Linked DNA regions of Homo sapiens: region 2 is linked to region 1. The links come from fine-mapping of genetic effects on gene expression. A gene starts in region 1. The other region holds a variant in brackets. All regions are shown on one strand. Distances are from middle to middle.

Region 1 (4,382 bases):
ATAGAGGACCTGCCCAGATCACACAGCCAGTAACTGGCAGAGTGAGGACTGGAGCCCAGATCTACTTGGCTCTACCAAGTGCTGCTGTCTTCCTGACAATGACCCTTGGCCTCTGCCCTCCAGGAACTTTGGCCTTGCAGGGGAAACCTTGGCCCCACCAGCAACTCTGAGAGACGCAGCCTGAGAAGGGCCATAGGTGAGGGGTGGATGCTGAGCAAGGGAGCTTTGGGATGCTGCAGCACAGGGAGGAAGGAAGAGTCCTTCAGACGGCCACAGATCAGCACGGGCATGGTTTCAGGTGGGGAGAGTAGAGCCCCTGAAGTGACTTTTGAAGGGCTGGTGAAGCTGCTGCTCCCAGTACAGGGCATGGAATAAGGTTAGGGGAGATGGGGGAGTCAGATGGGGTGCAGTCTTAGAACACTCTTCTATGGGTGGCGGGTCTCAGCTGCATATGTGAAAGTCTTCTTTGGTTGGATAGGAGGCTCCTGAGGGGGCTGGGGCTACTCTTAAGGGAGAAGCATCTGGGTGGCCTGGGACAGAGGCAGGGAGGTTGGGGAGAAGCTAGAGAAGTCCAGGTGACTGAGAGTGAGGTGAGGCAGAGACTCCTCTTAGTGGAAATAAAGGAAAATCATGAGTCTTTTCAGGGGGAATTTCAGGCAGCTAGCTAGCTTTGAGAAGTAAATGAGCACCTTGACAAGCAAGAAGGTAATTGAAGCTTCAAACAAGGGCCACCCAAATAAGTTAGAGCCACAAGATGTCTGGTTCCCTATAGAAACTAAAGATAACATCTTGACCTATGTCCCTGAATTGTTTTTCACAGCTGTCACTTAGGCCTCAGATAAGGGGAAACTGAGGGCTGTTCTTTAAATTTCTTCCCAAGGGTTCTGTAAAGAGTCACACCCATAAGCCAATGCTTAACTCTCCTATCTGTGGACCCCAGGTTTTTAGACAGTCTTGCTTCCTAAGCCAATTGCAAATCACAGAATCTCTGAATCCACCTATGACCCTGCCTCAAAATGTCTCACCTTTTTGGGCCAAGCCAATGTATAGCTCCAGAGTATTTATTTATGACTTTGCCTATAACCTCTGTCTCCCCACCTTTAAAAAGCCTTACATGTAAACCATTGGGGAGTACGGGTCTTAAGCATTAGCCGACCTATTCTCCTTGCTTGGCACCCTGCAATAAATGCCTCCCTTTCTGCCGCTGCAAATCCTGGTGTCAGTGTTTGGCTTTGCTGCACTGGGTGGGCGGACCCAAGTTTGTTTCGGTAACACAAGAGGTTGACGAAATCATTAACTGAGACTTCGAAACAAATTGGAGGCGGAGAATGAACGGGCCTGAGACGCTCCACCAGCGAGTGGGCCGATGGGCTCATCAGATCAGATGGGCGTCTGTCCTGCTGCCTCAGGGCGGGGGGTGGTGGCACCCCTGAGCTCCTACTGTAGGCAAGAACTAGTCACTCCTAAACCTTCTCTATCGGATTCCCCAAGCGGCCTGGGGTGGGTAGAGATTATAGTCCCCGTTTTACAGATCAGGAAATGCAGGCTCCGTGCCATCCCAGGGCATTCCGGTAGCCAGTCACGGACAGAGAGTCAAACATGAGCCCGAGCCCGGGAGCCCATGGCAGCACGGGATTAAGTCCTCAACACGGGCCGGGGTCAGTTTTCCCATCTGACAGAGGCCCTCTGCTGCTCACAGGGGCCTGGGCTCCCACTTCTCCATCCGAACACTTGGGATGGATGTGAAGGTGGAGCCCGGAAAGGGAGGGGCGCCGCCCACCAAGTCCTGGTTCTGGCAGGCACCCTGGCCCTTGCGGGTCCTCGGTACTACACGCCGGCCCCAAGTCAGCCGCGGCCCCGGCCCGCCCTGTGGGGGCTGAACCCCAGCCCCGGCCCGATCCCTCACGGTGCAGCCAGCCCTTGGGAGGCTGCCCATGGGGATGCGCACCAACCGCAGACAGATAGGCTGGGAAGGAGAGAGAACGAGGGCCCGACCGAGCCGGTAGAGGCGGTGGGTGCCGCTAGGGGCCCCAAGTCCGCGTTCAACACAGGGGCTGGAATGAGACCGCTCCTCTGAGCGGCCGCCCACCGCACCAGTGCGCATGGGCGCACCCGGCCACCGGGCCGCCCACCCCGCCCCACGGGAGACCACGCCTCCGGCTCGCAACGGGCAAATGGGCGGAGGCCGCGGGCGGGGCGGGGCGGAGCCGGGCCCAGCTGGCCGAACCCGGGGAATGCGAGCGCCAGCCCCCGCCGCAGGCCAGTCCCAGCTGGATCTCCGGCCAGAGCCCGAGGCTGCTGCGCCGGGCGGCTGCAGCCTCCGCTCCAGCGCCCGCGCCGTGCCCTGCATCCCGGGAGCCCGGCTGGACCCGCGGCGGCTCGGCCGGTAGGAGGCGGGCGGAGGGAGGCGTGTGCTTCTGTGTGTGTGTGTGTGTGTGTTTCGGGGGGGTGTGTGCGGGTGCAGCGCGGGCCAGTGATTGCTCCGGGACCACGAATCAGTGGAGGGGGCTGCACCTCCCGCGGGCCCGGGGGGAAAGGAAGTGAGCGCTGGCTGGGGGGCGGGGTCCTGGAGCATCCGCCTGGGCCCCCTCGGCTCGTCCCCACCCCCACCCCCGGCGAGGAGTCTTTTTTTCACCTCCCTCTGGGTGTCTCCGAGTCGTTTTCCTAGTGCGGACGCGCTGGAAGCGCCTAACACCCGGGGCTAGACTGTCACTTCCTCTCATCTTCCTTACAGTTCCCCCCTTCTCTTCCCTGCTTAACCCCCCTTTCATCCCTGCAATCCACCAACCCCTTCTGGGTGCTCCACCACCCAGGCCTGGGGAAGGGGCAGGGCCGAGGCTCCTACTGCCCCAGCCTATCCGCTTCTTGGCACTACTCCCCAGGTTGAAAGGGGGCTTTTCTCCTTGACTGCAGGGCGGGCGCACGTGTGTGTGTGTGTGTGTGTGTGTGTGTGTGTGTGTGTTGCGGGAGTGTGGGGGAGTGGTCTGGGAGGGAATGGATCTTTGTTTCTCAGACCTCAGAGTTCCCACCTCTGTTCCTTTGCGTTGGGGGTCTCGGAAGACTGGCCTAGGGGACCAGAGGCGAAATAGGACAAAAGATCATTAACAGGTGCGACGTTCTCTCTCCCAGTCATTTCATGTGGTGGGATTCACCCCCAAGTTCCATACAGATCAGAAGAGTGGGGCACAGAGAAGCGAAGTCAGCTGCCCTCTCAGGATTGCTGAGCCAGAATTTGAACCCGGGTCCGCCTGGCTCTCATCCCAGAATCTTCTCCCTACACCTGTGGTTTAGAGAGAAAAGTACTGAGGGCGACTATCCCAGGACTCAGGGGAAAGAGAGATCTGGGCAGACTTCTTGGAAGAGAGGGGCTTACGGGTGAGGCTCAGCCAACTCAATGAGTCTGAGGCCTGCTGGGGGAACCACTGTGTTTTGCAAGGATTGACACCTCCCAGGGTCCTCGGGCTGGTCCTTGCTCCTGTCCCCAGGGTCTGGGGGTGGGGTGGTGTGGCTGCCTTTGCCTCCTGGGCAGGGTATGGTGGGCCCAGCTGCTGCTGCAGGCCAGGTCAGGCTAGTTGCCAGCACACAGAGGTGCTCAGGCGGGGTCTTTGCCCTGAGGAGCCTCTCTTCTGACAAGACAGGCAGTGGGTCCACAGATAAGGCCCTGTCCAGAGTTGTACCCAGTGCTGGGAGCACAAGACAGGGACTGATGGGTGCCCGGGAGCTGGGGATGAGTTCACTTGCAGATTCGTTGGGGCTGGGTCTTGAAATCCACCAAGCAGAAAAGAAAAGGCAGGTCATTGCAGCCCCAAGGAACAGCATGAGTAAAGGCCTGGCAGTGTGAAAATGAATGCTGGTGGGGTGGATTGCGGATTAGATAGGTCAGATGTGTGTCCAAGAAGGGCCACCTTTGGCTGCAGTAGTGGGTGGGCTTCCACTGAGGGCTATAAGGAGGAGGCCAAAGCAGGGAGAGGGCCCTCCCTTCTGCTCTCCTCTGCTCCCCACCCAGGGCTAGGCTTGGCAGGGGAGGAGGGACCCTGATAAAGTTTCCCAGAGCAGGGGTGCTGGGGGCAGGAGGTGCCCAGGGGCTAAGGGGCTACACAGGGTCCCAGTGCTGGGGGAAGGTAGGTGGGGCTGCCTCTGTGAGATGGGGACCACCATTGGGGGTGGAGCAGGTTGGGAGTAAGTTGACTGTTGGACAGGGTGGTTGTGAGATGCCTGTGGGTTTTTGTGGGTGACATCTGGGACACTGCTCCCAGGCCAGCACTGTCTCTGTCTGCTTCTGCGCCTGCTTTCCTGGCAGGCTGTCAGATCAGCCCTGGAGTCCTGGTCCCCAAACAGGAGGCCTCCTGCGCCCTCAGTGGGCACCCTCTCCTACCTGCAGG
Region 2 (4,382 bases), 53 kb after region 1:
TGCTGCAGGAGGCCACCCAGGCCACTTTGCCAGTCTTGCTCAGGAGTCAGCAGATAAAAACACGGCAGAGCTCCTTGCCTTTAGAAAGAGTTTCTTCCAAAGGCCTTTCTCTTACATGTTCACGGTTAATTCACTGCCCCCTGCCCCCACCAGCTCCCTGGAGGCGTTCACAGTGTGCAGTGACCATAGCAACACCCTGGCCACCGCAGCAGGCTCACCATGGGGTTCCCACCATCCACTTACTCAGGCCTCTCAACAGCCATGGAAGATCCTGGATGCAGATGTGCTTTATAAACTGTACAGGGCAGCAGACAGTAGTTATTAACACCATTCACAATAGTAACAGCCAGCGTTTGCCAGTGCGTGCTCTGTCAGCCGAAAGTTGCACTGCCTGCTTTGATTGCATTACCTAATTCCTTCACTAGCTCTGAGATGGGCACCTGCTGTTAGATTCAGCCTCATTTTACAGGTGAGGAAACAGGTCAAAAGAGAGGTTAAGGGTCTGTGCAATGCCATGCCTGTGCCCTTGTGTGGGCTTAGCTCCCCTCTCAAAGCCAGCTGTGTTCTCTCACCTCTGGGCCATATGGACATATTAGGTTGTTGGGCTGGGGGGCCAAGAGCCTGGGGAGGTGTGGGGGAGGTACCCTGCTCAGCCCCTCCCCACATCCAGGATGACCTTCGAGGACGTGTGCCGGTACTTCACGGACATCATCAAGTGCCGCGTGATCAACACATCCCACCTGAGCATCCACAAGACGTGGGAGGAGGCCCGGCTGCATGGCGCCTGGACGCTGCATGAGGACCCGCGACAGAACCGCGGTGGCGGCTGCATCAACCACAAGGACACCTTCTTCCAGAACCCACAGGTGGGCGTTCTCAGGAACCCCCACCCTGCCCTGTAGCAGCTGCGGGGTGCCTTGCCACTGTCCTGCCAGGGACTCCTGCATGACCTTGGGTAATCCCTGTCCTTCCTTGGGCCTCAGCAAACCTGTCTGTACAGTGGGGGTTAGATGGGCACATCCGTCCCATCTGGGGGTCATGAAGCCCCCAGCCTCACAATCTAACCTGCAGATGGTAAAAATGAGGAAACCGCGGCTCTGAGGGACATTTGGGTGTCTTGTTCTGAGCTACAGGGACACTTAGAGGCTGAGCCAGGGACTCAGCCCCTTGTTTCCACAACAGCACAATTCTGTCCCTTCTGGGAACTTGGCTGGGCTGGGCTTCCCCACGGGGCCTCTCCCCACAGCCTCCTCAGTCTGACCCGTGGCGCTGCTTAGCCCTGGTGCTTGGTGTGCCTCTGTTGAGCACCACCTGTGTGCCAGGCTCTGTGCAGAGTGGCCACCCTGGCATTGAGTTTCCCCAGCCTTCATGCAGGGTAGCCATTGCAGGCATTGGTAGGCCCACCTCACAGCAGAGGGACCAAGGCGCAGAGAGGTGCTGTGACTGGTCCAGGCTCTGGAGTCTGAGCTTCCGGGAGCCAGCCAGCCCATGCCTGGTGTGGTCTCATTGCAGTGTCTCTCTCTCTCCTTGGCCACACCTGCAGTACATCTTCGAAGTCAAGAAGCCAGAAGATGAAGTCCTGATCTGCATCCAGCAGCGGCCAAAGCGGTCTACGCGCCGGGAGGGCAAGGGTGAGAACCTGGCCATTGGCTTTGACATCTACAAGGTGAGGCCAGCCGGGTCCCCTGCCGTGGGTGGGGAGAGGGAGGGAGCTGGAGTTTGGACTGCCCATGCCTGAGGAAGAACGCTCTAGAACACCTTGGTCACTGCCGCTGCCCTGGCTGCCGTGGCAGACATTGTGAGGATGCCGTGGCATGGGCCCCACTTGAATATTCACAGAGGGCCCAGCCTGCCCAGCCTTGGCTTCTGTGGGAGCTCTCAGCCTGATTTCTTTCTGCCTAAGACCCACAGGCCTGGGATGTTTGGTGGATGAGGAAGGGGAAGATTACTGGTGGTTGGGGCCGGGCCCTGGGAGGCTCTGGGCATCTACTGGGCCCCCACTGCTCCTCCCTCAGGCCTCAGGGCCCCTTGCAGCCCCTTAGCCTTCCTGCATTGGAGGCCTTGCTGGGCACCAGGAGGAGGCATCCTTGAGCATAGCCAGGTGGGGTCACCTATGGCCGCACCGCCTGGCCTGGAACCTGAGGCCTTCCACGTGTTGTGATGCCCAGTGTGTGGTGACAGTCAGCATGGCGGGACCCCATGTGCCTGTCAGACCTTGAGAACGGAATGAAGCCACCGGGCCCTGCAGAGGCTGGGTAC[A/G]TGCTGAGTCCTTGGCATCTGATGTGCCTGGCCACGCCGTGGCACTTTGTTTATACTCTTGTGCTGGTACATTCATTGCATGCTAGTGTCTTGTGACATATTGTTGTGACTTTGCCATGTGACGATCTTCACTAGTGTGACCAGAACACTTTTTTCAGGATTGTCAGGCAGGTCCTGGCAGCTGGTGATGGCATTTCGTGGACAGGTGCTGTGACCTCTGCAGATCCTGATACTTGGTTGTGCTGTTGGAGTCAGAAACCCCACTGACATTGTTACCAGGGGGATTCCTATTGCCCTCTATTTTTTTTGTTTGTTTGTTTTACAGAGGGTCTTGCTCTGTAACCCAGACCAGAGGGCAGTGGTGCTGTCATAGCTCATTACAGTCTCAAACTCCTGGACTCAAACGATCCTCCCACCTCAGTCTCCCTAGTAGTTGGGACTATAGGTGAACACCACCATGCCTGGCTAATTTTTAAGTTTTTTGTAGAGCTGGGGTCTCGCTTTGTTGCCCATGCTGACCTTGAACGTCCAGCTTCAAGTGTTCCTCCCACCTTGGCCTCCCAAAGCGCTGGGATTACAGGCATGAGCCACTGCGCCCAGCCTCCTTTAATAGTTTTTATTGAGATATAATTCACAGAGCATGCAATTCAGCCATGTAAAGTATACAATCTAATGACTTTTGTGTGATCAGAGTTTATGCAACCATCACCACAATCAACTGTAGAACATTTTCATCTCCCCAAAAGAAACCCACTCCCTTTAACCACCACCACCCATTCCCATTGACCTCTTCCCTTCAGCCCTGGGCAAACACGAATCCGCTTCTGTTATTATAGATTTGCCTGTTCCGGACATTTCATATAAAGGGATTCCATCGTCCCTTCCATGGTGGTGAGGGGGAGGCGGGGTGGGCCAGGGTGTTGTAGGGTGTGTCTCCGCGTGGCCCAGCCCCTCCCGCCTCCTGCAGGTGGAGGAGAACCGCCAGTACCGCATGCACAGCCTGCAGCACAAGGCCGCCAGCTCCATCTACATCAACTCACGCAGCGTCTTCCTGCGCACCGACCAGCCCGAGGGCCGCTATGTCATCATCCCCACAACCTTCGAGCCAGGCCACACTGGCGAGTTCCTGCTCCGAGTCTTCACTGATGTGCCCTCCAACTGCCGGTACTTGGGGGCTGGCTTGAGGCCAGTGTGGGTGGGAGTGACATTCACACTGGGCCAACCAGGAACCTGCAGCCTCAGAGATGCTCAGTGTCTCTGGGCCTCCAGCCACTCTGGGCTGATACCAGTGCCCATCTCCTTCCCTTCTCTTCCCTTGTTCCCCTGTCCCAGCATCCCTGGCCATGACTAGGAACAGCTTCTTGTATGTGCACTGCACTCTACAGTTGACAAAGAAGCTTTCACTCATCTTGATCTTCCTGCATCCCTGAGTGGGAGGCCTGACTCCCGCACTTTACCAGTGAGATTCAGGGGCCGAGGTTAGAAGGGTTGTCTGAGGTCATGCAGCCAGCGGTGGAGATGGGCTGGGCCACCCAGCCTGCCTGGTTCCAGGGTTGGGTCTTGTCACCACAATTTCCTGTCCCATGGGGGTGGCTCTGGGCTCCAGTGGACTGCTGAAGCTCTCTCAGTCCTTGCTGGGGCATAGACCCTGTGCGTCCCGCACTGCCCTCCACTGTGATACACAGCCCAGGCTCGGTGTCCCCTGAAGGACAGGTGAGCTCTGCCCACGTGCCAGAGCCAGGAGGCAGCTTGTGGCATGTGGAGTCAGACGGCTCAGGGTCCTGCCGGCCCAGGCTCCCCAGCTTTCCAGCTGTTTGGGCAAGCCCTTCACCTGGGTGAGCCTGCTGCTTCCTCAGCTGTGACATGGGCACCATAATAGCCTTTGCGGGGCTTTGCAGGGATTAGGAATCACCCATAACGCCAGCAGGGGGCTTGGCACACAGCAGGTGCTCAGTAAGGTGCCTTTCCCCTGGGGAAGGATGGGGTACCCTTGATAGGGATAGAGAAGGCAGGAAGCCCACAGGGCTTGGAGCTGGGGACTGCCCATGGGGATTTGCTCAGGACTAAATGAAATCAAGTTTGGGCTAAATACTGCTTCTCTTCCCTTCCCACTTCCTGAACCC

The links.
Region 2: its variant is fine-mapped to the expression of CAPN5 in whole blood (INTERVAL, PIP above 0.99).

Annotation. Positions count from the first base shown.
Region 1 is chr11:77,064,709-77,069,090 of GRCh38, forward strand. It overlaps CAPN5 (calpain 5), which reads left to right and starts at 2,263. Exons shown (of 13, transcript NM_004055.5): 1 at 2,263-2,386. RefSeq lists an enhancer at 1,422-1,922 and a silencer at 1,779-2,468.
Region 2 is chr11:77,117,487-77,121,868 of GRCh38, forward strand. CAPN5 (calpain 5) reads left to right here. Exons shown (of 13, transcript NM_004055.5): 8 at 671-866; 9 at 1,544-1,666; 10 at 3,227-3,423. Among named protein-coding and RNA genes, the nearest start is that of MYO7A, 8.6 kb to the right of the region's middle. The variant A/G (reference allele first, on the strand shown) is at 2,260.